4 separate regions of the Homo sapiens genome follow, and regions 1, 2 and 3 are each linked to region 4. Evidence: fine-mapped expression QTL. A gene starts in region 4. Each other region holds a variant in brackets. All regions are shown on one strand. Distances are between the middles of the regions.

Evidence for each region.
Region 1: its variant is fine-mapped to the expression of FRY in whole blood (TOPMed, PIP above 0.99).
Region 2: its variant is fine-mapped to the expression of FRY in whole blood (TOPMed, PIP 0.91).
Region 3: its variant is fine-mapped to the expression of FRY in monocytes (Quach 2016, PIP 0.90).

What each region holds. Positions count from the first base shown.
Region 1 is chr13:32,084,786-32,092,544 of GRCh38, reverse strand. The region is part of intron 2 of FRY (FRY microtubule binding protein); the gene reads right to left. Among named protein-coding and RNA genes, the nearest start is that of FRY, 57 kb to the right of the region's middle. The variant G/A (reference allele first, on the strand shown) is at 2,522.
Region 2 is chr13:32,113,613-32,121,371 of GRCh38, reverse strand. FRY (FRY microtubule binding protein) reads right to left here. Exons shown (of 61, transcript NM_023037.3): 4 at 3,899-4,038. Among named protein-coding and RNA genes, the nearest start is that of FRY, 86 kb to the right of the region's middle. The variant G/A (reference allele first, on the strand shown) is at 3,354.
Region 3 is chr13:32,093,791-32,101,549 of GRCh38, reverse strand. The region is part of intron 2 of FRY (FRY microtubule binding protein); the gene reads right to left. Among named protein-coding and RNA genes, the nearest start is that of FRY, 66 kb to the right of the region's middle. The variant C/T (reference allele first, on the strand shown) is at 3,442.
Region 4 is chr13:32,027,688-32,035,446 of GRCh38, reverse strand. It overlaps FRY (FRY microtubule binding protein), which reads right to left and starts at 3,673. Exons shown (of 61, transcript NM_023037.3): 1 at 3,582-3,673. The coding sequence starts at 3,651. It overlaps FRY-AS1 (FRY antisense RNA 1), which reads left to right and starts at 3,808. Exons shown (of 4, transcript NR_103839.1): 1 at 3,808-3,996.

The DNA.
Region 1 (7,759 bases), 57 kb before region 4:
TTAAAAAAATACAGACTTTAAACACTCCTTGTGTCCACATCTAACTAAGAAGGGCCGAGGAAAGCCATCGCCCTCTACCTTAATTTTCAAACAATTTTGGTGTACACGAATTACATCTTCACTTCACAATCTTTTCATATCATACATCTCTGTAATCTTTAGGAGGAAAGAAAGATGGCCAGACAGACAGGCCACAGTCACTTAGAAGTCTAGAGGGAGTCTGATATATCAAGACGTGTTTTATTTGAGGTATTATACAAGGGGTCATTTAATACAAATAACTTTCTACTTCTAACTTTTTAGTGGCCTTCCAAAATTTCAAGTGTGCTCCACACAGGTAAGATTTCACTAATCTAGAAAGATCCAAAGTATTACTGCCCTCAGAGATATTTCTTTTTTAAAAATGTGTTTACATTTAAGGGGTAGAAGTGCAGTTTTGTTACATGGATATACTGCGTTGTGGTGACATCTGGGCATTTAGAGAGATTTCAATGAATGTGTTTAACCCAGCAATGCTATTGGAGTTAATATGAGATTATTCAATTAGTTAAATATATCACTAACCTTGCTTAAGATGCTATTTTAAAGTCTTTTAATTATTACAACAGTGGATGTAGCAGTTAAGGGTGTGGGCTTTGAAATCTGAGAGACCTGAGTTTGAATCCTAGGTCCTCTCAACTTATGGCCCTTTCTTAACTTCTCTAAGCTTCAGCTATCTTTTAGAAAAAATGAGGATACACATAATCAGTTGAGGGTTTTGATATCAGCAGCAGTGAAATTTTATAATATAAATGTCTGGTCTTAGTGGTTAATAAAGAATTTCAGAATGGAACTACCACCATTAGGATCTCTCTTCTTCACCAGAACACGGGAAGATGCCTAGTGGTGAGCTTCCTCACCCCATGTGGTGGCACCCTTCACAGTAGAGAGCTGTGGACCCAACTGTGAAAATGCACCAAAGCGTTTTGTTCAGAACTATCTACACCCAGCCGCAGGCACTCTACTTCGTATGAACCAAAGAATAACGGGGTCCCAAATGTTTTCATGTCTGACATCTTTTTCTCATCAGATCTCATTTGTGCCAACTTTGACTCAAGTTTGGAAAAACATCTAAAGAGTGAGCCTGAAGACTCACAGTTCTGAATACTGACCATTACTCCCCAAATGACTTCCCCATCATGAGGGGTAATCGGCACCCCACTGGTGTGATTAATCTTGAAGATGTACTCTGGTCATGTCAATTGACTGACTGCATGGATCACTGGACTTCTGGTGGAAGACTTAGCCCCCTTGATAACCTGCCTCAGTTTGTAAAAATGGACATCACCCTATGACATCCTGAGTAGGTTTCTAATAACTAATGAGAAATAGTCAAAACCCTGACAAAACTTCTCCCCTTTTATTCCATTTAGTTATTAAAATGAATTTTCTTAAGCGAAATAATAAATGCTGCCTTTCACCTAAAATACTGGGGAAAAAGAAACAAAAGAGAATGATACAGAAGACACAGCACAAATAAATCCAAGGTACTATCAGGTAAGATGCTGCCCAGTACCCTATGCTATGAAAACTGAAGGCAGATGTAAATCTGGAAGAATATGTTGGCACTTTTTTTTTAAGCAAAATCTCTTGAGATAATCTGTCCTATTTGCAGTGGTTTTGCTCATTTCAGTGGAGCCTATTTCTCTGCCACATTTAACAACCCTAAGTACAAATCCATTATTTGAACAGTGGAAGAGAAACTTCACTTAAATTCAGCTACAAAGTTAATCTTCATTTTAATTGAACAAAAGAGCAGCTCTCATAGGCATTCTTTAAAAAAGAAAAAAAAAAGAACTACAGCAGCTACTAAGAAATGTAAGATACAACCTTCATTTGTTTGTTTCTGGGTAACTTTCTATTTTGTTGGTCTTTTCAATTTTATTTGTCCCAATATACCCCTCTAACTGTGCATGTTATGTTCACTCAGTAGACTTTCAGTGTCTACTACAGTGTGTGTGGATGGATCTTTTCCTATCTCCTTCAGGACATGGCTCCATCAGCCAGCTCCTCAGTGACCCCTGTCTTCCACCCTTCCCTTCTCTTCGGTCTTTCTCTCAGCTATCAACATGCTTAAACCTTTTCATCGTAGTGCCTTCCTTGACCACACATCCACCTCTGGCTGTGGTTTCCTTTTTTTTTTTTTTTTTTTTTTGAGATGGAGTCCAGCTCTGTCGCCCAGGCTGCTAGAGTGCAGTGGTGCCACCTCGGCTCACTGCAACCTCCGACTTCCGGGTTCACGCCATTCTCCCGCCTCAGCCTCCCGAGTAGCTGGGACTACAGGCGCCCACCACCACGCCTGGCTAATTTTTAATATTTTTAGTAGAGACGGGGTTCCACCGTGTTAGCCAGGATGGTCTTGAGCTCCTGACCTCGTGATCCACCCGCCTCGGCCTCCCAAAGTGCTGGGATTACAGGCATGAGCCACAGCGCCCGGCTGTGGTTTCCTTTCTAACCCTCTTCTCATATTCAGTTCTCCAAT[G/A]GGTGGTCTACACTTCCTGTCTTTCTTTCCTCTCCTATTCAAAATGTCTTCAACTACTTGCAATCTGGCCTTTCTTTCACCACTAAAATTAGTCTCCCTAGGGACCCCAGTAACTTTCCAAATGGCAAATCTGGTGGCCATTTTTCATGCTGGATCTTTTAGCTGCAATGTTCACTCCCTTCTTTCCACTTGAATTGCCCTCCACCTCCCATCTGTTCTCCTCCTACTTCTTAGACATTCCTTCTTCTTTTTTTCTTTTTTTGGAGACAAGGTCTCACTCTGTCACTTAGGCTGGAGTGGAGAGCAGTGGTGTTAACACGGCTTACTGCAGCCTCATTCAAATGGTCCTCCCACCTCAGCCTCTGGAAGCACAGGCATGTGCCACCACGCCTGGCTAATTTTTTTGTTTTTATTTTTTGTAGATAGAGATGGGGGGTCTCACCACGTTGCACAGGCTGGTCTCAAACTCCTGGACTCAAACAATTTTCCCACCTCAGCCTCCCAAGGTGCTGGGATTACAGGTGTGAGCCACTGTGCCCACCAGACATTCCTTCTCTGTGGCCTGCATAGTCTTTTCCTTGAATGTTCACATTCTTCATGGCTGAATCATCTTGGGAAAGCCTACAGGAATATTCCAACCCCCCTGCCTTCAACCTATGTGATTACAACTTAGGAATTGAGTAGAAATTCCCAAAAGCATCAGGAAATATTATCAAATAGAATATTGTGTTTTAAGAAATTTTAAAAGTCAGAATATACTAGATATGTATGTAAGCAACAGTAAAAATACCTAATAAAACAAGTCTTATTGTTAGCATGACCGTAGAAATCAAAATTTGTGCCGGTTAAAATTGCTACAATGCTATAGTAAAACTTGCTATTGCTGAAAACTGTACTGATGATTTTCAGGAATGTCAAAATGCAAAATGTTGTGTGGAAACACAGCAATATTACATCACAGTGACCTTAAGGAATGAGCCATTGTTACTTGGTATTATGCCATTATTATTGAACGTATTTTTATTGGTATTTTCTGTCACTCTAAAACATATACTTCCAGATGATCTTTTGTTTGTATTAAAAAGGATGTCTTTGTAAATAGTACAAAGAACATATCATCAGAAAAACTAGACCGAAATGAGGAATTACCTTTGTCTGGTTTTGTATTCTCAAAAAAAGGAAACTTCGATAATCTCTTCATAAAGTCACCAGAAATAAAAATAAAAATTATGGCCTTATCCATGAATGAATTGAATTGGATACTATTAAATTGAAGTAAAAAGCCCTCTGATATTTTTTATTACCTGGTGATATTTTCACATCATTTATTTGCTATAAGGTTCAATCAAACTATGGTGGTGTATTAAATTTCATTTCACATCTGAAAAAGTTCCATTTAGGAGCCACAGAAGAAATGTGTTTCATCTACATGTCTCCAAGCATACTCATGATAAAGAAAACAAACTTATGAGCTCATCTGAAAGATCACCTCATTCAGCAGTTAAATTGAATCTTTTTAGCTACTAACAATGCTATGTTTCTGGGTTAGGGTGAATTTTCAAGTTTTTGGTGAATGTCTTTATAGATTATTTAAGGGACGTTCCAGGCTAAGCTGTTTTGCTAAGAAACAGCTATTTTAAAAGTTATTTATTTATAATTTGAAAACTAGCCAGTATGTTGTCAAGTGTGATATAAATATTCCCTATCTGACCAGCAATGTTTTAGTCTCTTTTCAGGACAGCATTGCTTTGATTCTATCACTACACTCAACAGGGAGCTACATGAAATTACTTTTACTCTATATTTCCCTTATTTGGTCTGTTGAAGCAACAGCAGCCTCTATTTAAAGAGGAGTTTGACCAACAAGACTAGCTGATTATCCTTCTGGGAAGCTGACTGGAATCCACAGTGCAGAAAGACATTAAGGCTGGCATTTCTGCTATTTACACATCCTTAGTCAACAGACATGTAACCTTTGCTTAGTATAGGAAGATTGGCATGTAGAGCAGTGCAGAAAAACAACCAACTTGCAAATGGGCATGATAAAATATTATGAAATATCATATGGCTGAGGTTAGTAAATGGTGATAAGCCTATGAAGATGATTAGTAAATTACAATCAGTTTTATGAAGATCTGCCATATAAAGATCCAAACTTAATTAGAGGTAGTCATTCTGTCCTTTAGCACAGCAGAATTTCCAATTCACAAATTACTAAAATACTAAAAAGGGTTCCGGATGAAAGGATCTGATATTTTCTGATATCTAGAAGTCTGCACACACATCACTCATGTGAATGAATGAAATACAAGACTATGGATGAATGTTCAATCTCTAGATGGCCCAGAGGTGAAAAAACCTCTTTTACACCTAAAAATAGGGTGTATCCTAAATTCAGTCTCTTACTTCTCATCAGATATGGTCTAAAATCACAAGAGGAAGCTGGGATGAGTATGTATGTCACTTGCCAAAGGACTTGCTTACTTAGACCCACAGTCCCGTTCATCAAAATGACTAGAACCATTCATCATATACCATCTGTTGGTGGTGGGCCACCAGTGTCCTTATTACAGCACAGCGTCCTACTTAACTTTAGGGGTAACAGGAGAGTTGTCCTGATGCCAGCTTTGTAACATCAACACACAGGAGGAGTTGGAAGCCTCAGACTCTGGGCCAAGGAACAAAGGTATGTCAACAACGTTACTGCCTGAACCTGGAACAACACTAGCAAGCAGTAATGCTGTCATTAGCTAATTGCCTGGCCTTTCAGTGTTTGTGCCGGCTGGCCATGACTGATGTTCCTACAGGTTTGTTCTTAAGCATGACATATTTCATTACAGATTCATGATGTGTGATGCAATAGAGTTTGGCATCCTGGATTCTTCAGACTGTGTACCCCAAGAAAATAGTTTGTGTTACTTTGAGTTTACTTCTTTCATGTTAGCAAACCAGCTAGATCATGTTCTATTATTTTTAAGCCTCCATTCCAGCATGACACAGTTAGCACCTTTATGAATTATCACTCTGTCAGCCCACACCTGTGCTCCTAACTCAGCACAGGGGCAATGTCTAAAATATCCTGCCTGCATCTTGTCCGTTAACTATTTTGTGAACAAGGCTACTAAGGCTCAAGCAACCTCAATAATGAAAATCCCCATTTTCACTCATCTTTCGTCATAAAAAGTGTTTTTGAATTCCAGGGTGTTGGATGAAGATAAGCACAGCTCTCATTCTTAGTCTCTGCTGAAGGACAAGATTAAAGTTAGATTTTTTTTTTAAGTCAAGTAGACTTAAAAAAAACTTTTCGTTTTTCCAGGTTTCAAAATCAAAACACAGTAAATTACTTTCTTTCTGAGTAATTCTTTGTCAGGCAAGTTAGAATTTCTTTTTCTTCTTCCCGATGACATTTTATGCTGATAGACTAGATCCAGATGGAATTCCTGGCCCAATCCCCAATTTAGCTTCCACTGCAGCTCCTGGAAGGGACAATGGGAGATTAAACCTGGACAGACTCACTAATAAGTGAGTTTAAACCCAGGGATTTAAACCCAGGGAATTTAAGAGTTTAAACCCAGGGGTTTGAGAGTGAATGCTGCTTTTATTTCATTTGTTTTATACACTAGAGTGAAAATGGCCTGGCTGCTATCCTTTCATAGACGAGAAAACAATGACAGATCACACGTAGGTGACTTTGCCAGAAGCACAGGTTAGTGGCAGGGCTATAATAAAAAACCAATTTTCTTGTGTATTGGTCAAGTTATAGGGAGGGGCGTGGACAAAAGCCTAAGAAGTGTGATTGAAAATTCTTGAAATTTTCTAAACTTGGTTTACTTAGCTGAGTAATCCAGCCTTTCATATTTTGGGCTGCCTGGCCATTATGCGGTTCTTATTTTTTTCTGAGACCCCTACTCTCAAGAACCAATGAAATTTCCTCTTTGAAAGCCTTTGAAAACCCTCAGAGGCGGACTTACCTCAAATCTCTGGTTTTACCGCCTAGGTCTTCACAATTCACACCTGGGTAGGACTCAAGTATTTTGCTGGAAATACAGTGAGATCGTTGGGGGTGTTGTCTTCTCTTAAGTACTTTGTTTGCCTCTGTCATCTCCCAAAGCATGAGCACCTGGAGGGCTAAGACCAGGTCTGCTGAAAGGAGCTGTGGTTGTGTCTCTGTCAATGCCATGGCAGAGCTCAGGACAGGCACCTGACAGTATTGATAAATGGCAACAGGAGACAGTCAAGTCCCCTGCTCAAGCCTCCATTATGTTTGCGTGAACACAAAGAGAGGAAGCACCAGGCTGACTTCTGAGGAAATATACCAGAAATTCATCTCAGCCCTCCAATGAGGATAATGAGGAGGGTGGTGATGAGGACAAATGAGCATCTCCTACATGCTCAGGAGTGTATCAGGGGCTCCACACACTCCCTCTAATCCTCTCAACCACCCTGTGAGCTGGGTACTGTTACTTCCATTTTGCAAATGAGAAAAAAAGGAGGTTGACTGGCTGGTCCAAGGTCACACAACACTAAAGAGGTGGAAGCAGGAGTCAAATCCGGATCAGTCAGAATGAAAAGCTGTTTTGTCTTTAACTTTATCTCTTTTGTCCATTTGATCTACAAAGTCAAAATTGATAGCAGCACTTGAATTCAGAAAAACTGGAGAGTCTTGTTTTTGGAAAGAGCTTACTGAGAAGGTAATTGCCTGTGACTACAGTAATAGATGCTATATAGACAGACTCATAGAGAATGAGAGCATATATTCTGATACTGTGTCTGATCACTAAGAGTCACCCGTTGCTGGAGTCAGTGTGAGGAGAAGGTGACCATATCAATGAATAAAGAGGTATCCTTAGATGCCTGAAAGTAGGAGGCTGAGAATCAATGCCTCTTGTACTCAGCACATTTTAGGGCATTCATCTGTGCAAAGAACAGAACATAATCTATTATTATTAGTTTATTAGTTTAGAGTTGGCAAGATGACCTCTGGAAACACACAGGTTCCAATAAAGACATTCTTTTCAAGCTATTATATTAATGTTTCATTCATTCATTCAAAAAGCATGTACTGTCCATGATACGCAAACACTGTCCTAAACATGGGGACATGGGATATGTGTGTGTGTGTGTGTGTGTGTGTTTGCATGTGTGTATGTGTCAAGATGCATCCCACACAGATATTGCCTCCAAGGAACTTATAGGCTAACACATTGCTTCTTCAACTTAAGAGAAAATCTCTGCCCC
Region 2 (7,759 bases), 86 kb before region 4:
TAGTATAGCTGCTATGGAAAACAGTGTGGAGATTCCATAAAGAACTAAAAGTAGAATTACCATTTGATCCAGCAATCCCACTACTGGGTATCTACCCAGAGGAAAAGAAGTCATTATTCGAAAAAGATACTTGCACATGCATGTTTATAGTGGCACAAATCATGATAGCAAAATCGTAAACCAACCTAAACGCCCATCAATCAATGAGTGGATAAAGAAACTGTGGTATATATATATGATCGAATACTATGCAGCCATAAAAAGGAATGAATTAACAGCATTTGCAGTGACCTGGATGAGATTGGAGACTATTATTCTAAGTTAAGTAACTCAGGAATGGAAAACCAAACATTCTATTGATATGTGGGAGCTAAGCTGTGAGTATGCAAAGGCATCAGAATGATACAATGTGGGCTGGGCATGGTGGCTCACGCCTGTAATCCCAGCACTTTGGGAGGCCAAGGTGGGCGGATCATGAGGTCACGAGTTCAAGACCAGCTTGGCCAACATAGTGAAACCCCGTCTCTACTAAAAATACAAAAATTAGCCAGGCACAGTGGTGCATGCCTGTAGTTCCAGCTACTTGGGAGGCTGAGGCAGGAGAATCACTTGAACCTGGGAGGTGGAGGTTGCAGTGAGCTGAGATCATGCCATTGCACTCCAGCCTTGGTGACAGAGTGAGACTCCGTCTCAAACAAACAAACAAAAAAGAATGATACAATGGACTTCGGGGACTTGGGGGGAAGAGTGGGAGTGGGGCGAGGGATAAAAGACTACAAATATGGTACAATGTGTACTGCTTGGGTGATGGGTGCACCAAAATCTCACAAATAACCACTAAAGAACCTACTCATGTAATCAAATACCACCTGTACCCCAATAACGTACGGAAAAATAAATAAATGTTTAAAAAAGTTAGAAGCAGAATCAGCACTGTCAGAAGAACAGGAAGGCAGTCCCTCTACCCCATTTTCTGCTTGACTAACACACTGATTGAGGGCTCATTTGGAATTGAACAAAGACAGATGAAATTACTGCTGGGCTCCTTGGCACAAGAAGTGGCCTAGAGCACTGACTCTGGTGTGGAACAGTCTGGCATAAAATTATGCCTCTTCTATTTATCGGCAATTTCTCCATCTACAAAATGTGAATAATAGTACTTACATAATAGTTTGAGAAGATAAAACATGTAAAGTATTTAGCATAATTTCCCAAACACATAAATGCTCAATAGTATATATTAAATAAAACCAATGAGGAGGGATGACAGGATTTAGACTTGCCAGGAAGATCTTTTCAAAATAAATCAAGACTATTTTAAATCTGGAATGTTTTTCTCTTTAGTCAAAAGGGAATAAGAAGAAAATAATGTGATATTTAAGATATAAAGAAGACCTTCTGGAGTGCTCTGTAACTTTGAGCAAGTCAAATTAAGGCTGGTGGATGACAGAACGCGTTAAGAAGGAACTTGCATGTTTATCTTTCAAGGAGTAAATGTATCAACAGAGTAGGAACTCATTCTTTCAGGATCATTTATGAACAGCCCTGCCAGGAGAAAGAGCTGTGAACAAAACCATCTATCTAAAGTCCTTCAAGACCCACTGGAACTAGTAAGCGGCACTGCGAGCTGGGGGAAAGGAAAATCTATGCAGCTGCATTAAAAAGGAGGGCACTCAGAAATCAGGCTTTATATCCATTATATTATAGAATAAGGAGACAGGAAGTTGGAAAGACCAAAAGGAAGGAGAACTCCCAGAGATGGCCAGCAGCAGTAGAGAGAGTATTTTTGTGCTGGATGCTAAGGGTCTTTACAAGTGGCCAGAGGAACCTGAGAAAGTAGCAGTTCTTGGCAGAAAAAAAAATGTAGACCTTTGATTCTATTTTATTTAATAAGCCAAATTATGTTTTCAAATCAAAGTAAGACATATACATTTCTAATAATGAATTCAACTTTATTGCTGGTTTGCAGTCTAACTGCCAGGAGCCAGAGACATTTGACAGATTTATTTGGCAGTCCAAATGCTGATACTGTACTAATCTCAGAAATCACAACCCAATGTGCATCCCTGACATCTATTTTCAGTAGTTTATGCTCCTCCTTAAAGTCCCCCCAACCTTTTTTTCCTAGTAGCAGAAACTCACATTTAGCTACACCATACCCTAGAGAGCTTCATTCATTTGGCTGTTTTCTAAGCACATTTTCTCTCTTATTTTAAAAATTCAAGCATTAACTAAAATGCTACTAAGTCAAATTTTACTGTCCTGATTCTTTATCTGATCTCAGTACTTACTCTGATCTCCTGAAAATAATCAGTAACACAATTTTAAAAACTATAATTTTTAATCCATAAAGAAATCAATTCATGAAAAATCTAATTTCAGCAACTAAATTCTGACAAAACAGAGGAACAAAACTAAAACTCAATTCAACTCACTAAAAACTGTCCCACTCCCTGCCCCTGGGAAGGTTTAATATCTGTTCATAAGACAACATGTAATATGGAAAAAATAATAAAATGATCCTTTTAATTTCTTAATCACATGGTCTGAACCATTTTTCAGATAAACAATTTAAATTCTATTTTTAAAACCTGATAAATTAAAAAAATATTCATGAGGAGAGGCTGCTAATGGGTACAGGATTTGGGGGTGATAAAAATGTTCTGAAATTAGAGTGGTAATGGTTGTACAACCCTGTAAATATACTAAAAACATTGAATTATATACTTTAAAAGGGTGAATTTTATGGCATCTGAGTTATATCTAAAAATTCTAAAAATTTCCTTCTTCACTAAAAAAAATTCAATACGAAAAAGTTATTAATCTCTCTCCCAAACAAAATTATATGATTAAATCTTGCATAAATTCAAGCACATTATAAAAGCAGATTACAAATTTTGTTGAAGTGTAACATGGTAATGTTACAATTCTTCTATTTCAAAAGAAGTCTTTTGAAACAGTATTAGGACTTTCAAGAAAAATGAGAGAAATAAATCATTCACAAAAAGTAGTTAATGTCTGATTTTCTGGTTGATTAATTTCAGTTTACAGACTTTAAAAGTATTTTTTTAATTGGAATAATCCATTCATGTGGAGAAATCTAACTACTTTTTAAAATAATCTTTTATTTTTTTTAAAAAAGGTAAGTGTATTAATCTTTCTTATATTCACTGCCTTGCTATAGGTTGACTAAACATATGAAATTATATGTGCTTACCTAAAATTTGGGGAGGACACACATTAATGAGAATCTTAAGTTTTACAGATGCTGATATGCTCCTGGAGCAGCAAGTTCCATTTTTCAAACCCACAGGAAGAAGGGAACAGAGAATAAATAAACAAAATACTCAGCT[G/A]GAAGGAGGAGTTGGAGATGGTGTCACCTAACTTCCTTGTTTTGCTCACAAGGAGGCTGAGGTACAGAGAGGCGGGGAGCTGCCCAAAGTCACATGGCTAAATAGTGGCAGCGCCAGGACTACCACTAACGTCCAGTCCAGCGTCCTTCCCACTACAGTACACTGAGCACTCAAGGTTACTGGAACGAGGACTAAAATATCTTGGCATGTCACGCAAGGCCTGAAGTCAGCATTCTGCTTTGGGTGTAGACTCAGTGGGAGAGGGCAGAGGAAAGAAGCTGGCAAGAAAGTGACCTGTGGCCCTTCACACCTGTCTCCACCAAAGTTGAAATAAAGCTGTGTATGAATTTTCAACCCGTGACGGCTGGCAGTGACTCGGTGCTCCAAATGGGTTACCTGCTACAGACACAGGGCCCCTGCAGCACCTGCTAGGCATCCTTGTGAAGAGTCAGGAAGACCCAATTGCCTTGTAACTCTAATTTTGATTTATGTTTCCTGAAAACAAAACAAAATAAAACCATGATCCTTACACAAAAGAAATGTACCTTTTTGATTTATTGCTTGTTCTTGGTCTGTATTCATGTGATTCATCCTCAATGCCATTTTGCCTTTTATACCAGTCAAATAATGTACGTAGAATGGAAGGCAGGCAGTACTCAGAAAGGGAGCTCATTGAGCTGATGACCTATGGAGGAAAATGCAGGTGATTAGAACACTGGTAGCACTGCCAATTACTGAGAAACTTTTTATTTCACAAGTAACCCCAAGCACTACTCACTAAAATATTTTCTTCCGTATCACAGTCCTTTCTTTCATAATCTTTATTAGTACATTCCCAAGAGCCTGTCTCTTAATGGTGACAAATGTTCCCCATATAAGAATAATTTTGTAGTTCAAGAAAGTTAATTACTTTGACTCCCTTTCATTCTAGAAATCAGATGTTAATTGCATACAGGTTATTCATGGAACTGCAAAGATATTATGTTCCCACGTTCATCTGCCTAAAGTAGATGAATGCTTCTTCCGTCCTAAAAATGTTTGTTGTATAAATATATGAATACAGTTACATTAATAATTTACATGATATAAACAAATCTGCCCCCATCACCAAATAACCTAAGTGGTAATAATAATGTATGGTTTTGGACAATAATTATTCATTCATTAATTTGAAGTATGCCCCAAATTAGACTCAAAATATAAATGGGCAGCAATAATTTACCCCCTGTTACATTAAAGGCAAACTTCTCCCTTTTTCTTTAAAGAACAAATGTGCCTTTGGTAGAATTGTTATTCTAATTTCCTTATCTGGAAAGAGTCCTGATTTTTTAACTGATTACTATAAAAAAACACTTCAATCCATATCTCATTACTCTATGCAAAAGTTTCCACAAAATGCCTCATAAATTTAAGTATAAAACCTAAAAATATAAAACTCCAAGAAAACATAGGATAAAACCTTTGTGACTTTGTATTAGGCAAGGATTTCTTAGGTACGGCCCCATAAGCAAAGTCTATGATAAAATTTCATATAATGAAACTCTTCAAAACCAAAAACTTCTGCTTTTAGAAGAATTCAGTTAAGATCGTGATAAGGGACAAACCACAGAGTGGGAGAAAATATTTGCGAAACACATGTCTGACTAAGGCCTTGTCTCCAGAATATGTAAAACTACAATGAAATGGGTTTTAACTAGCTAATCAACAAACTGTATAAGCAAATTATAACGCCCAGAGTTGATGAGCAGTGATAAAGTGGATATATTCATATACCGCTGATAGAAAAAAACAGGCATAACATCTCTGGAAATACATATCAAGAACCTAATAAAAATCATTCCCAAGAAGGCCACTCTTAGAATTTATCTCAAGTCCATAATTAAAGATAAGTAAGAAGGTGCAGGACAGCATTATTTATTATAGCAAAAGGATGGAAACAACATAAATGTCCAACTACATGTAAATGCTTAATAAGATGTGGAATTTGGTGTGGACTATTTTTGAAACCATTAAAATCATATTTTAATATAAATATAAAAATATGACATGAAAATGTTCATGATATGGTAAATGAAAAAAATGAAGAATCATTTAATTGGTATGATTCCAATTTGTTAGAGATACTATGTAAGTATACATATGCAGAAAACAGGACCAGAAGGAAACATACTAACATATAGAGTGCATGTGAAAACCAGGGGTTCTTAGGTCAGATCACTAGAGGGAGAAGGAGGCTGGGAATTTAAGAGAAATGAAGATGAGAGTTTACCTGGGACTATTTTAGAAAGGGTAGAAATTTGAGATGAGACCCAAGAAAAAAAAAAGCAAAGACTCAAGGTAGAAAAAGCCTTTAGTAATGAAGGTATAAAGTAACTGTTGATGATTATCACAATTGATGTGACGAAGGTTTTGAGTGAAATGAAAGAAGAAATATCTGACTGGTATGAAGACTTTATTTTGCCAGAGTGAAGGAACATAATGCTGAAAATTTTTCTTCTCTAGAAAATGAGAAGACTCTAAAGATTTTTGAATAGGGACATAAGCCCATACAAATTGTGTATGGGGAGGCTGAATCCCCCAAACAGTGGGGTGATGTGGAGGCAAATTCACACACATGCTTGAACTGCATGAGGTGATGGCAGTGATTCCAGGCATTCTGTGATCTCGGCCTGAGAAGCAGAGATGGCAGAAGAAATGGAAATCCTTAGTTAACTCACAATATTTCTGCAGTTAAGCAGGCCGGGCTTCACTTCCTTTTATAAAGCAGGAAATGAGAGCAAAGGGAGCTAAAGTGCTTTGTGTCAATAGGATTTTCCACTGTCACCTTTAAAAGAAACCTTAAGATTGAACAAAATATTTATTGCTTTCTTTCTCACATTCTACCACTTCATAGCCTACTTCATGCTGTCTCTCCCATAATGATGGTTATATGTACACATACAAAATTGTACATTATCTTTAGTTATGAGTTAATATAAGGTAAAAATAAATAGGCTATTGCATTCAGCCTGCCCTGTTAACCTAGTCAGCATAAACTTTTTAAAACTGAAGAGCAATCTAATTATTTAAAGAGTCACCCTTCCCTTGACTCTAGTGAAATCCACAGCCAAGACATATTTTTCCTGCTGTGGTCATGAATGTAACAGCAGTAACTTTTCAGAAGAAAGCTAATCATGATGTGGCAAGGTAGTAATTCACTAATTCTTTCTAAAGTTATCCCAACATGAGAAAGGATATTTACTTTCCGAAGTCACCAACATCTAAAATGTTTTGAATTGAGAAATGAAGGACATTCCTCCCATTGAAGAAAAAGGGATCAGAATTCAGAGTTTCTGACTATAGGATGACTATCTTAATTATTACATAGGTAACGAAATTTCAAAGCATTACAGTTATATTTCAATAATTTAAAAATACTTGTGTAAATCTGCCGAATCTAAGGAGACATGATGACTAAACGTTCATGTGGTATGCTGAATGGTATCTTGGAACGGAAAAAAGATATCAGAGAAAAAGAAAGGAAATACAAATAAAGCACAGTAGAGTTTAGTTAACAATAATGTGCATGGAAACTGCACCCCCTCCCCAACAGCTTGCCCTACACATCTCTTCATCTATATCCTTTGCAATCTCCTTTATAGTAAACCACTAAAAAAGCCCAACACATAAAACAATAATGTACCTATGCTGGTTTCTTAGTTGTGACAAAAGTACCATGGCAGTGTAAGATGCTATAGCAGCAGGGGAAACTGGCAACTGCCTGAATTATCTTTGCAACTTTTCTGCAAATCCAAAACTATTTCAAAATAAAAAGTTTATTCAAAAAATACTTGTGTGGGATATTTATAAGTTCCAATACTCACTACAGACCCATAAAAGAGATGGAAACTTACGTTTGACTCCTAAACATCTCTGGGCAATGCATGCAATGTTCCGCTACCTCATGTATGTGGAACCCCCATTCTCCATAGAGAACTTCCACAGTGTTCATCAGACTTCATCTATAATAATTTCTTAAAATATTTTTTTCTCCCCCATTAAAAAGTCACCCTGAATCCATTCTTGGTGTTAGATCTACTGGGCATACTTTCCATGGCAAAACACTGAAACCATCTTAGAAGGGATGAAAGGTCAGCATGGGGTGGATGTGTGTGTTTTTCCATCTTTCTGTTACTGCCCTTCTGAGCCCAGGCTTTCAGGAAGGAAGGGTGGAATTTGCAAAGACCTGGCCCTCAAAGCTCAGGAAGGGAGGAAGGTCTAGCTGGCTTCTTGGTTACTCAACTCCTTCATTTACGGGAAGCAGAGCCAATGGTAAGATGAATTCTAGCTCTGTGCTCCTGATGAAAGAGGGCAGGCCCATTTACAAAGATGTTCTTGTTGCATTTAAATGATCATATTCTTCCACC
Region 3 (7,759 bases), 66 kb before region 4:
AAAGTATGGAGGATTTTCAAAAAATTAAAAATAGAACTACCATATGATCCAGCAATTCAGCTTCTGGGTATGTATCCAAAGAAAATGAAATCAGTATCTTGAAAGATATCTGCATGCTCATGTTAACTGCAGCATTATTCACAATAACCAAAATATAGAGTCAGTCTAAGTATCCATCAGTGGATGAATGGATAAAGAAAATGTGCTACATATATATACAATGGAAGACGATTTAGCCTTAAAAAAGAAGGAAATCCTGTTATTTTTGACAACATGGACGAACCTGGAGTATTATTATTATGCTGAGTGTATAAGCCAGGCACAGAAAGACAAATACTGCACAATCTCACATAAACCTGAAATCAACAAAAGTCAAATTCATGGAAGCAGAGACTAGAATGGTAGTTACCAGGGGCTGGCGAGAGAGGAATGAGAGGAAATGGAAGATGTTGATCAAAGAGTACAGAGTTTCATTTAGATAGGAAGAATAAGTTCTGGAGAGCTACTGTATAGCATGGTGACTGCAGTTAATAATGTATTGTGCTATGGCCTCAATGTATCCCCCAAAAATTCATACGCTGAAACCTTCAAGGTGATGGTGTTAAGAGGTGGGGCCTTTGGGAGGAGATTAAATCACGAGGGCAGAACCCTCCTGAGTGGGATCAGTAAGAGGTCCTAAGGAGCTTGTTCTCCCCTTCTGCCATGTGAAGATGCAGCGGGAAGGCACCATCTATAAAGAAAGGGGGAACTCACCAGCAACCAAATATCCCCGTGCTTTGATCTTGGACTTCTGGGTATCCAAAACTCTGAGCAGTAGATGTCTATTGTTGATAAGCCATTTATTTTATAGTAATTTGTTATAGCAGCCTGAATGGACTAAGATACATTGTATACTTGAAAACTGCTGAGAAAGTAGATTTTTAAATGTTCTCATCACAAAAAAAATTTACGTAATGTGATAGAAATGTTAATTAGCTTGATTTACTCATTATACATATATCAAAACATCATGTTGTAACACCATAAATAAACTTATTTGCCAATTTTATAAAAAGAATCTGATGCTATAAGTGGTCCTATGTCTTCAATGGCAACAACATAATAAAAACCGTAAAATTTATTTGAAAAATTTAATATTTATCTTGGGATTTGACAGATAATAAAAAGTCACGGCCAGGTGCATTGGCTCACGTCTGTAATCCCAGCACTTTGGGAGGCCGAGGCGGGCAGAACACGAGGTCAAGAGATGGAGACCATCCTGGTCAACACAGTGAAATCCTGTCTCTACTAAAAATACAAAAATTAGCTGGGCAAGGTGGTGTGTGCCCGTAATCCCAGCTACTCGGGAGGCTGAGGCAGGAGAATTACTTGAACCCAAGATTGCTCCACGGCACTCCAGCCTGGTGACAGAGCAAGACTCCATCTTAAAAAATAAAAATAAATAAAATAAAATAAAAAGTTGAAAGCAATTCACTATTCCAAGTCCCTAGATTTAGAAGCAAAGTAAGGTTTATTTATTAGACTGGTACTGAGGGAGAACCTACCAATCATACATTTACTAGGTGTAACTGGTGAATTTGGGGCATGTGATTTTTCTTGCACCACATCTAGTTCTCTGCAAAAATAATATCAGTAGTAACAAGAGTCTACTACAGAAACAATTCACCTTAATTATTACATCTTTGTTTACATTAGGAAGCCTTAACTGATCTTCCAGCAGAGCATTTTTTTTTCAATTCAAAGAGTTTAATTCAGACATTATTGACATTTTGAGAACTCCAGAAAATGTAACTCAAAGCAAGACCTCAGTTTTCCAAACTGAAATTTCTGAGGAAAATATTCATCATGAATAGTTTTCTGTTTTCAATGCATTTCAGAAAGAAATTTTTACATATCTGGTAGAAGGATTTGAAGTATCTATTGTAAGTAAATTAATTACATGGGAAATGTTCATTCACACAAAGGAAATAGAGCTTTTATGCTGACTGTATTATACGTTTTCAAAATCGTATTTCTTTGTGCTCTTTCAGAGAGCTTTTTAAAACTCGGACAACTTGAATTTTTAATTATAGAATAATATATATTGCTAATTCACCCTTTCCAAAATGACTCAACTCACGCGGTATTGCTTTTTAAGCCTCCAGCAGAGCATTTTATGTTACTTACCCTTATTTGTGTGTGTGTATGTGTTAGTGTGTGTGTATGTATGTGTGTGTGTATATATATATATCTCTGTATTTTAGATGAATACACATTTTGAACCTGTATATATATACATATATACACATATATATATGTCTTTGTTATGGAAGTTCATTCTGATCCAAAATTTGGTTGAGGATTAGAAACAATGCAAAAGTTATATATCAAAAAATATTAAGTTTTACTTTGGCCAATGCAGGTTCCCTAGCAAGACTCCATTTATATGTACCTGCTCACATAGACCCTCTCACTGTGGGTCTAATCATTTCTCCAATCCTCTCCTCCACTCACAAAGATGATCTTACCTAAGGCATATACAAGCCCCACCCCTGCCCCAACTGTCTTTGTTCTTGAAGAAACGCACATGGTGGTCTTATCCTGCAAGTCTGAGGTTTCACCAAGAGCCTTACAAATCAACTACTCTGTCTCCATTGCAAAATATACAGGTTCAAAATGTGTATTCATGTAAAATACAAAGAATACTGTGTTCTTATGGGTAACATTTTCTGTTCAGAGTATACTATCTAGATATAATGAATAGATACTATATGTTTATTCATCACTCAACAGTGACTGAGGGTTCACAATGCGTCAAATGCTACATGCCGGGGTGGAACACTGAAGAACACACGATACACACTACTGGGGAGAAGAGTCGAGTCTGAGAGGGGAAATGTGGTTAATTTCCTCTTATGAGTGTTGTCTCTACTTGTTCATTATTCAAACCTCAGCTGAACTATCACTTCTTCAGGGAAGCCCTTCTCTGAGCCATCCCCTAACACCTGGTGTCTCTCCCTGTACATGCCTGCAAAGCCTCATGTATTTGTCCTTTCACTGACCTTACCATAGAGTAAAGTCACATCACAGTCATCATCTTGTGCAATTACACATTCATGAGTGAGGCACCGAGCACCATCCCTGCTAGGTGGCAGGCCCCAGAAATGAAGCGACCTCTGTTTCTTTCAACACTTAAAGTCACAGGACAGAGCATGGCTCGCCTGACATGCAGCATTCCACCTGATATGTAGCATGTGACATGCTGTGAACCTTCAGACACTGTTGATTGATGAATACATATAGTATTTATTCATTATATCTAAATAGTATACTTTGAACAGAAAATGTTTGTTTACCCATAAAAACACAGTATTCTCTGTATTTTAGATGAATACACATTTTGAACCTGTATATTTTGCAATGGAGACAGAGTAGTTGGAATTTGTAAGGCTCTTGATGAAA[C/T]CTCAGGCTTGTAGGTGAGACCACCATGTGCATTTCGCTTGGTGCTGGCTACGCATTTGCCAGATTAATAGAAGTTCTAGGACAGTGGTGTCCAGTTTTTTCAAATATGAAAATCCCTTTATTTTCTGTGTATATGTCTTGTTTTAAGTTTTAAATTTTTTTAAAAATACTCTTTATTGTGGTAAAATATACATAGCAGAAGATTTAGCACTTTAAAGTGTAGAAATCAGTGGCACTAAGTACATTCAAATGTTGTTCAAACATTATCATTATCTATTTTATGAAGATTCCTTTTAGTTCCAGAAATGTTCAAAAACTTCTTAACCAACACACACACACACTCCAAACATATAAGATAGTAATTTTATTTTAGAATCTATTGTTTAAAACTATACATAATGACAGAGAGCTAATACTACAGCTCCAATGATACTTTTAAATGGTTCTGGGCCGGGCACGGTGGCTTATGGCTATAATCCCAGGACTTTGGGAGGCCGAGGTGGGCAGATCACCTGATGTTGGGAATTCGAGACCAGCCTGGCCAACATGGTGAAACCCTGTCTCTACTAAAAACACAAAAATTAGCTGAGTGTGGTGGCGGGCACCTGTAATCCCAGCTACTAGGGAGGCTGAGGTGGGAGAATCGCTTGAACCAGGAGGTGGAGGTTGCAGTGAGCCAAGATCATGCCACTGCACTCAGCCTGGGGCCACAGAGCAAGACTCCATCTCAAAAAAAAAAAAAAAAAGGAAAAAAAGGTTCTGTACTAGAGTAGCAAAAATACTTCTTTTATACATACTAGAAACATGGGAATACATCTATATGGGAGACCTTAAAACTCAGACAAATGATAACTCAGCACACCTGTGGGTCTGTAGACCCCTACAACAACTCAGGAGTTCACATAGTGGGAGCACAGAAGGCAATCCTCTTTCACTACTACCTAAAAGAAGATCCTGCCACAGCGGGGAAAGAAAGGTGACTGTGTCCACCCACATCCCAAAGCTCCCCATACCTACCTAAAAGTTATTTTTGTCCCACTACAAATTAGATGGGAAGCTGATAAACATGGTATTTTACACTTACACATTTTTGCATACATATGAAGGAAACAACATATTGTCAGGCTCACTTTCTCCAATAAGCAAAGTTGATATATATATATAAGTTGTTGCTATACATAAAAGTCAAGTCCATTAGCTAAGAACTTGGGGTCAATGCTGCAATAAAATAACATGCTAAGTTGCTAAGTTTTCCTTAACTATTTTTACACAAATATACTATCTTTTTTTTTTTTTTTTTTTTTTTGAGACAGAGTCTTGCTCTGTCACCCAGGCTGAATGGCAGTGGCATGATCTCAGCTCACTGCCGCCTCTGCCTCCTGCATTCAAGAGATTCTCCTGCCTCAGCCTCAGCCTCAGGCTCTGGAGTAGGTGGGATTACAGGCACGTGCCACCATGCCTGGCTAATTTTTGTATTTTTAGTAGAGATGGGGTTTTACCATGTTGGCCTGGCTGGTCTCAAACCCCTGACCGCAGGTGATCCGCCCACCTGGGCCTCCCAAACTGCTAGGATTACAGGCGTGCCACTGCACCTGCACACAAATATACTGTCTTAATCATATTCTTTGAAGACTCAGCTTAAATGTCATTTCCCAGATGAAGCCCCCCCCCGCAGTTTTCCCTAGCAGAGTCACCTGTTAGTTGTCACACAGTACATTATTTGCACCTATTCTTGTTAGCATTCCCACCATGTTGTAACTTGTCTGTCTCCTCCATACCCCTAGTACACAGTTGGAAGTTATCAGGGTGTGTTAAATGGCTGACTATAACTGTATGCATTTGGAAAGATAGCTTTGCGAACAGAGAATCAGGTTCACATTTTAACATTACCAAGATTATCTTTGCATCAACATAGATTTTATCAGTGAGATGAGACTTGAGAGTACACCTAGGGGACAGAATACCATAGTAGCTAAAAAATAAAGAGAACAAAAGATGAAAGGAAGAAAGGGAGAAAGGGAAAGAATATAAGAAAGAGGGAAGAAAGAAAGGATGAGTGAAGAAATAAAGACAGGAAGGAGGGAAGGGAGGAAAAAAGGAAGGAAGAAAGATGGAAGGAAGGAAAGAGGGAATAAAAGGGAAGAAAGGAAGGATGGAGGAAGAAAGAAAAGAGGGGAGGAAGGATAGAGAGATAAAAAGAGAGGAAAGGTTAGAGGCAAACTTGCTCCAGCTCAGAAGAGAGCCATCTGAATACAAGGGAAAGATCCGTAAGTCTCAGGCCTGCTTCAGAAAAGAGACCTGTAAATCTAAGACCTCAAAATATGAAATTAGTACAAGAAAACATTGGGGAAAATCTCCAGGACATTGGTCTGGGCAAATTTTCTTGAGTAGTACCCCACAAGCACAGGCAACCCAAGCAAAAATTAACAAATGGGATCACATCAAGTTAAAAAGCTTCCACACAGTGGCCAGGCAGGGTGGCTCACGCCTATAATCTCAGCACTTTGGGAGACCAAGGTGGGTGGATCACGAGGTCAGGAGTTCGAGACCAGGCTGACCAACATGGTGAAATCCCGTCTCTACCAAAAATACAAAATTAGCTGGGCTGGGGGCGCACGCCTGTAATCCCAGCCACTTGGGAGGCTGAGGCAGTGAATTGCTGGAACCCAGGAGGCAGAGGTTGCAGTGAGCCAAGACTGCGCCACTGCACTCCAGCCTGGGTGACAGAGTGAGACTCCGTCTCAAAAAAAAAAAAAAAAAAAAAAAAAAAAGCTTCCATACAGCAAAGGAAACAATCAACAAAGTGAAGAGACAATCCACAGAACAGGAGAAAATATTTGCAAACTATGCATCTGACATGGATTAAGAACCAAAATATACACGGAGTTCAAACAACCCTATGGGAAAAAATCTAATCATCCGATCAAAAAATGGGCAAAAGACTTGACTAGACATTTCTTAAAAGAATACAAATGGCAAACATGAATATGAAAGGTGCTCAACATCACTGATCATCAGAGAAATGCAAGTCAAAACTACAGTGAGAAACCATCACACCCCAGTTAAAATGGCTTATATCCAAAAGACAGGCAACAACAAATGCTGGCAAGCATATGGAGAAAAGGGAACCTTCATACACTGGTTGGTGGGAATGTAAATTAGTACAACCACTATGGAGAACAGTTCGGAGGTTTCTCAAAAAACTAGAAATAGAGCTACCATATGATCCAGCAATCTTTTCCAAATACTGAGAGGAAATCAGTATTTGGAAAAGATATCTGCACTCCCACATTTGTTGCAGCTCTGTGCACAATAGCCAAGATTTAGAAGCAACCTAAGTGTCCATCAAGAGATGAATGGATAAAGAAAATGTGACACATATACACGATGAAGTACTATTCAGCCATAAAAAAGAAATGAGATCCTGTCATTTGCAACAACATGGATGGAACTGGAGGTCATTAAGTGAAGTAAGCCAAGCACAGAAAGATAAACATTGCATGTTCTCACTTATTTGTGGGATCTAAAGATTAAAACAATTGAACTCATAGACACAGAGTAGAAGGATGTTTATTAGAGGCTGGGAAGGATAGTGGGGGGTTAGTGGGGAGGTGGGGATAGTTAATGGGTAAAAAAAAAAGTTAGAAAGAATGAATAAGACCTAGTATTTGATAACACAACAGGGTGATGATAGCGAATAATAATTTAATTGTGCACTTTAAAGTAACTAAAAGAGCGTAACTGAACTGTCTGTAACACAAAGGATAATGCTTCAGAGGATGGACACCCATTCTCCATGATGTGATTATTATGCATTGCATGCCTATATCAAAACATCTCATGTACCCTATAAATATATACACCTACTATGTACCCACAAAAAATAAAAATAAAAAATAAAGAAAAGAAAAGAGAACTGTAAAGGTATGCTTCTGCTTGCAGTTCTACTGCAGCACACCAGTTGCATGAAATCCAAGATCTACACATTCAGATATCCTGGTTTTTAAAGAGCATTAAATAAGTAGTAAAGCAAAATTAGCACAGAATACACAATGGGTATTTAACCAACAAGTGGAAACTGATTATGGCAAAGGAAGCTCAAAATAATGATGCCATTCATCAAGTAAGAACAGTATACTTCAAGTAAGAATAGAAAGACTTCGTATACTTTAAAAATTTGTCTTTGTTCTATATTTTGGTACAATTTTATTTATGTACTGAAGTTTCATGAATTGAATTGAATATGTTTATTTTCACAAAATCATTCTGAAAAAGCATAACTTTGGGGTGATGGGTCCCTGAAAGTTCTTAGCTGGCT
Region 4 (7,759 bases):
CTTTCTGCCACTAAGAAAATTCCCAGACCAACTCCCAAGCTGCTAGAAAGTATGCACTTAGGGTAAGTGGGATATTTTAATAGTAAGTGAGGTAGAAAGTTAAAGTAGTCAAGGGGTAAAGTTAAAAATGTAAATCTGGGAGAAAAAAAACCAGCCCAAAATAACCAACTAATTTTGACATTTATTTATGTAGTTCTCTTCTCTAGAGTGTAGCAAGTGTTGATTACTCATAAAATAACCCACTTTGGATGCCAAGGCTAAGGGAAGACATGGTCTACATCCGATTTGAAGTGGATTTAGAAGGGAGGAGGGCATTAGAATACATGAATATTATTTTAATGCTTATTGGGCATTTACAATGTGCTAGGTATTGTGCTAAGTGCTTTACATCTTAATACCTCATTTACTCCTATGAGGTACCCATTATTTTTGCGTACATTTTACAGATGAGGAAACTGAGAGTGATTACTTAACTGTCCGAAGCCATGCAAGTGCAGGAGCAAGAGATCTGAAGCCCATTTGGCCCTGCCATTTTTACATTCTAGGTAAGCGAGGCCTTATTAGGAGACTGATGGGTGTACAGGCATGAATTTGGGAGCATGTTAGTTAAATACAGAGGAGAGTGAGTAGATTAAGCTTGGTTGGCTGGAGCAGAAAAACATGAGAGAGGATGAACGAGGAGCTCAAAGAGGGTCCTGAGTGGCTACCACTGACACTCAGAGGCAAAAGGGAGCTGGGGAGCAGCCTTTGACTGTGAGGACACCACTGGAGCATTCCAGGTTAAACTGAGAAGGGCATGTGGAGGCTGTGGCCATGATTAACAAGGGGCCGCAGCCGTGAGAACCACTAGACAGCTGGGGAAAGGCTGGATAAGAGCAGGGAAGAGCAACAGGACAGACATCCAAGGGGACAGGAAAGCCTCCATATTCAGGTCTACATAGGACATTTTATTTCCAGACATCAAGGCCATTTTAATTCCCACCTCCATTCAAATCAAAGGGCAGCATGACAGAGTAGACGTGCCGATAAAGAGGAGAACACCAAAATGAACATCGAATGAAAGCTAGTACATCTCACTAGCCAGCGACTGATCTATTTATTGGCCTGTGAATTCTTTGGAGGGGACTAATATATATATAATTACATTTTCCCCACAATGTGCCATTTAAAAAAATATGGAAAGCTTTACCTGGAAACGCTTATGGAATTACCTTTCTTCTAACACCTTGCAAAACAGCCAGTCATAGTTATAGAGTTTGTTTTATTGCTTTTTAATTACTGCACTTTTGTAAATAAGCACCACCATATAATTAAGAGGCTGAGTCTCCATTCAGGTATGTGGGCAGACATCCTCACCTCTCAAACTTGTGAGGCCAGGCATGCGCGTGCAGGTGCATGCAGGTGCAATTAGCCGCTTGCCTCATGGTGCATCCTCTCAGCCAAGGTTACACTGAGTATGTTGAGCCTTAGGGCTTCTGTTTCTACTTTGCCTTCTACACAGACAAATTCCTTTCTCTCTTTGCTGCTCAAAATATGTAAAACTTAGCAATGAGAACTATGCTAGATTGTAAGCAGGTTAGTGTTGTAACAAGCTTAAAGAAGATAAACAAAGTATATTTCCTCTTCCTCTTTCAAGAAAGGACTGAAAAACATTCTCCCCCTCAAAAGAATGCTGGAAAGCCACCAACTTCACTACTCTGAAATAAAAAAATTAATATAGTGGGCAGGGACTGTGTCTTATTCACCTTGTGTAGCCCCACAGCCTGGCACATAGTAGGTATTCAATAAATATTTGCTGAATGAATTGGAAGAATTCAAAATTGTATCACAGATATTCTCAAAGTAGAAATGAACAGTCATTTTGAATCATTTCCTGAAGTATGTATGTGGGGAGAGGAGTTTAGGAAGGGTGGAGAGAATATATACTTTATCTAGAGTGATTTGAAAATAGACAAGGGGAGAGAAATTTTTAAAAGAAATCCCATTGGCCTCAGTATTGTCACAACATAATTTTCTATTTAATGATGCAATGACAAAAATTGATGGAAGAAAACAGTCTGGTCTTGGAATAATCAAATATGTTTAAAAACCACGTACTGATGTCAACTCAAAAGTGAGTTTTTTCAGTTATTGGAAAACTGCTCCATAAAGAACACTGTATGTCAAATTCTTTTCATTAATCAAAGAGCAGATAGACAAAGGAAGATTCATCCTTGAGTGTAAAGTATTATAAAAATAATGAGTCCAAGTTAAATGATTTATAGCTATGACAAGTAAAGAATGCTGTTTGGGCAACAGTATTACTCCCAAATGGCTTCCCACTTGTAGAAAAACAGCTTCAGACAAGCCCCATAGTGTATACAGTGGTGCAAAATGACCTGGAAAAAATGGTTTCTATGGATATCATTTAGAGATGCACATCCCTGAATACCTTAAGGCTGAAGGTACTTTAGCTCTTTTCCTCAAAGCAATTGCAGCACAGGTTCTCCTGCCCAGGTTTTGTTTATATAAGAACAATCTTGGCCACAGGTCATTTGTGTAGGAGACAATTAATCACTAGCTCTTTGAGCACAGGTAGGTTAATCAGTATGCACATAATACAATATTAAAATTTTCACGGGGAAAAAATTTTTTTATTTAAAACAATAAAGCATCAGTAATACCTGCTGATCTTTTATCCAAAGCAAGTACAAAGGCTGTTAGTGAAATAGAGAAGACTTTCTTTTTAAACAGTTCGGAAAATACAAGGCATCATTGATCACCTGAAGGCCTCATTTTAATTTGATTCCAGATCCACGGCAGCTTAGAGGTTGTCTTTTTGAAATAGCGTATTGCTAAAATCCTTATGTAGGTCAGAAATGGAACTTCAGGAGCCATCATATTCTGCTATCCTAATAAATAATTAGGGTCAGAACCTCACTTGTTTATGTTTCAAAAAAGCACAATATTTGGACTATAGCAAACATCAGGATTTTTAAAAATTCAAATATTAAATGGCATTCAGAACATCATCCACATGGAAGAGGGAGAGATGAAATAAATCTGCAGATGCCTCTATATACAAAAAGGATGTCCTAGGTTTTGGACTATTAAATACTTTTCTTTCTTCAGACAATACCCTAAAAAAACAATTACAAAGTACTCTGAAACCCTGCCACACCCCTTTGATTAAATCACACTTCACAAAATATTTAGAGAAAGCCTGAACAAATCAAATAAACATCAAGGCAGGAAATGCAGCCAGGAATGCCTGATCCTGAGCTCCCCCAGAGTCTGAAGGGCTGCCTCACTTGAAAATTTAATCAAACACAATCTACTGTAATTCCATTGCAGCCTTTGCACTTAAGGAAAGCTAGTTCAGTCTCTGACATTTTGATTTTCACAGCAGATGGGAGCAAAAAAAGAAAGAAAGAAAGAAAGAAAAAGAAAGAAAGAAAGAAAGAAAGAGAAAAGAAAAGAAAAGAAAAAAAGAAAAACTTCCGCGGCTCACAAACATATGTGTCCAGTTGAGATTTTCTGTCTCCAGCCTTATGCAACATCCAGCAAACAAACAAACAAAAAGGTTATTTTCTATTACTCACTATTACTCCAGGATTTCAGTAAATATTTGATACTGATCTCAAAGAAGCCCGAATCCTGCTGGCTGGCCATGTCTGCGGCATACAAAGAGGCTGGGAGGACGGGCAGCGGCCGGGAGCAGGTACCGGGCGTGATGCGCCTGTCACAGGTTGTGATGTCAGCGCGGGGTCAGGCGCCCAGAGGCAGCTCTGCGGATCCACCTCCGGCTCCGGCCGGGAGTGCTCATCTAAAGGACACGGCGGAGCAGAGAGAGATGCTCGGCCGCTCCTCCTCCTCCGGGTCCAGGACTTGCTTCTTATTTGCTGGACGCTGATCTCCCTGCAGCCCTCGGAGGCGGCGGCCGCGCTGCTTTCATTTCGGGGCTGTCATCACCAGAAACGCCGGCTGCCGGCCGCCCACCAGCTCGGCTCCAGCCAGGTACGCAACCGAGGAAGACCCCACCTGAACTGGGATCGGCTTTCTTCTGGGAGGGAGGGTTTCTAGGCCGGCCTCCCTGACGCGGTGCAGGCAGCCTCCGGCCCACACGGCCGCCGCGGGGCTAAGGGATGGGCCGGGAGCGCCGCCCCCTGCCCCTGCCCACTGTCTCAACCTGAGCCGCGGCTCAGTCTCCGCCTAGGCTGCGGGAGGAATTTCCCAGCTTCTGCGGATCCTCTCTCTTCAGCAAGGCTTCCCGTGAGCGGCCCGGGTGTGCTCTGGCTGCTGCTTCCCCTTGTGTCTGTCCCTGAAATAAACACAACTGCAGCACGCTGCGGTAAGCAAAGCTGCAGCCTTGCATCTGGTTGCAGCGACGTTTTGAAAAACCCCATCCGTCAGCCTCGTTGCAGTAAAGAGACTCAACAAGAGGACGCTTGTCTGGGCTTTTTCTTCCCTGCCTTCCACACGCATGGTGGTATCTGCATTTTTACTTTTCCCTCCCAGAAATGCAGTCTTTTCAAGGGGCATCGGAGCCCGAACGTGTGCACTCTAAGGGGACAGTACACACTGCTTAGTTGGCTTGTTTTTGTAATGTCACACACTCCACAATGGATCTTATTCTCAAACCTCTCATTTCTAAGACTCACTAAGCCCAGTGAAGCTTATTTTATTTGTATGAAAAGGATAAGAAGCAAAAGCATTAGATTCCTTGCTCTACAATGGCTCTTGATTTCATGAATTCTTGATATCAGGTGTCCTGATTTTGGTTAGCTTTGTTTCACATTATCATTTAGCTTGACCAGGGGATTAAATAAGAGTATTATATTTTAATAATGACAGGTTATGTTGGAAGAGGTGGGATTTGGCCAACTATCTCATAAACCACAGGATCCTTCCCAAGTCCCAGTACATTCATGATTAATGTTGTCTAAAAAACAGAAAAAAGTAATAAACCATGTTAATAAGTATTTAACATAGCAAATGTTGGGCTAACTCCCCAAATCAACACACAAACAGGACTTCCTAGATTAACAGTTCATTTTAAAAATGGAAGGGAAAGACTACAATGTACTTTTATTGTTAGGACAAAGAATTTTTAAAATTCAACACTAAATAAAACTTCTAGAACTATGTTCTGAAAGGCCCTAAGATACTTCATCAATACAATTAGTTTTTCAAACTCATTACACTTACCCAAATGGCAAGCACTCAATCACTCAGATTTCCAACTCCACTTATACACTTTATTCTGATGAAATCTCTCACCAGATTGACTTCTTTTTAATTCATGTGCATACTAGAGTTGCTGAACTGATTTTATCACTTGTACTTTGAATGTATGGATTCTAGGTAAAATAAGACCCAAAGGTTTTACCTTGAAACAATTATTATATCTGAAAATAAATTTCATACCTACGCCCATCTGATGCTTGCCAAGACTCAGATGGCAGTGAATGAACAGGTAGGCTGCACAGTGCCCTGCGATTAACGATGGCATGGGCTCTCAAGGCAGGGCCCCATGTTCGCTCCTGGCACCAGCCCTTACTAGCTTTGAGCCCCAAAGTAAGCTATTAACTTTGCTAAGCCTTCGTTTCCTCATCTGTAAAATGGGGTTGTACCTTCTTCCTATAGTTGTTGGAAACAATAAATAACACTATGTATGAAAGGGGCTCAGCATAGTATCTTGCCCATAGTTAACACTTCATTAAATTTTAGCTACATTGATTTTTTTTTTTTTTTTTTTTTTGAGACAATCTCACTCTGTCGCCTGGGCTGGAATGCAGTGGTGCAATCTTGGCTCACTGCAACCTCTGCCTCCCGGGTTCAAGCGATTCTCCTGCCTCAGCCTTCTGAGTAGCTGGGGTGACAGGCATGCGCCACCATGCCCGGCTAATTTTTGTATTTTTAGTAGAAATAGGGTTTCACAGTGTTGGCTGGGGTGATCTTGAACTCCTGACCTCAGGTGATCCACCTGCCTTGGTCTCCCAAAGTACAGACATGAGCCACTGCGCCTGGCCCATTCATTCTTATTATGAATCCTTAGTGACTCTAGAATAGAACTTTTTTTTAAAAAGCTAAATACTTTTTTTTCTTTACTCTTTATGTGGTTTAAAAGATATATTACTTTTGAACACCAGTGGTAACTATTTGGGGAGAGCAAGTTGGAGACATTTAAAATCAGTTGCAATAAGCAAACATGCTATTGTATATTGTTACTCAAATATATAGAGATTCTCTCTGTTGACTTTATTTTAAAAAATTTTTAACTGGCTTTTTAAAGTTTTCAATACTTAAATACATAAGTTTTCAGTATTTAACTACTATAAACATACTAACTTGCTGAGAATGCCACTCATATATATTTCAAGGGAAACGGTCATAAAAATGTAAATGCTACTTAGAAAATAATGTTTTCAATGCCATCTAGCTTTCACTGTGAAGAGTGAATCAGCATCTAAGAGCCCAGTTTCTGTCTCTTAGAACCTGAAATCTTGTCCAGTGTATGCTTTTTCTTCATTCGAGTACCTTTAAAGAGGACATATATTGTAAAAGAACAGAAAAGGGCTTTTGTTTTGTTGAAAGGCCTGCAAATCAAATAGAATGACACCCGCTGCAAGCTGAGTTGAAACATTTATCCTTTTGTCTTCTCTCTCTCTGGGGGGGCATAAAAAAATTAGTCAGAAGAGGCACCTGGACAGAGGTACTTTAAAATGCAACAGTAAAATCTGAATGTGTTCCTGGCTTGCTAGTGACTTCAGTTATGATTTAAGAGGACCTAAAGCTATCTCAGCTTTCATACCTGTAAAAATGAGGGATCCTTCCTTAAAAATATTAGGAGAACATACAATGAATTGTCAAGCATGGAATTAGGCATAGATGTTGGGGACTGAGTGAAAGATAACAGGAAAAGTGGAAGGCCTTAGAAAATGGTATCAAAGAGTGGGGAAAAAGTCGGAAAGTGGCCTGACACAAGTGATGACACTAAATGACACCATCTACATTTGTTGAATATAAATATTGTAGTTAAAAAAATATATATTTTTATATTTAATACTCACCTCAAACCTATGAAGTAAGTACTATTATTAGTCCCATTTTACAGATGAGAAAATTGAGGCTTAAGGAGGCATAAAATAAGGTCAAACTCATATAGCTAGTAAAATTTAGGTCTATTTTAGACCCTGAGTCACTTGTCATAACTTTGTTATTTATTTATTTTTTTAAAAATCACAAGCAAGGTGAGAATCATGGTTACCAAGTTCTTTAGAGAAAGCTCAGGAAGAGGCTGGGCACAGTGGCTCATGGCTGTAATCCCAGCATTTTAGAAGGCCAAGGCGGGTGGATCACTTGAGGTCAGGAGTTCAGGACCAGCCTGGCCAACATGGCGAAACGCCATCTCTACTAAAAATACAAAAATTGGCTGGGCGTGGTGGCACCCGCCTGTAATCCCAGCTACTTGGGAGGCTGAGGCAGGAGAATCACTTGAACCCAGGAGGCGGAGGTTGCAGTGAGCCTAGATTCTGTCACTGCACTCCAGCCTGGGCAACAGAGCAAGACTCCATCTCAAAAAATAAAAATAAATAAATAAATAAAAGTTCAGGAAAGATGCTAAGGTACTCCCTAACACAGCAGAGGCGCTTCAGGTCCCACTGACTCTCCCAGCCTATTCACTGTCTTCCTGCCTGGCTTTGTCCTGGGTGATGTATTCCCTGGGGACTGTAACCAATTCCAAGAAACCAAGAGAAGAATGCCTTTATTTTTTACA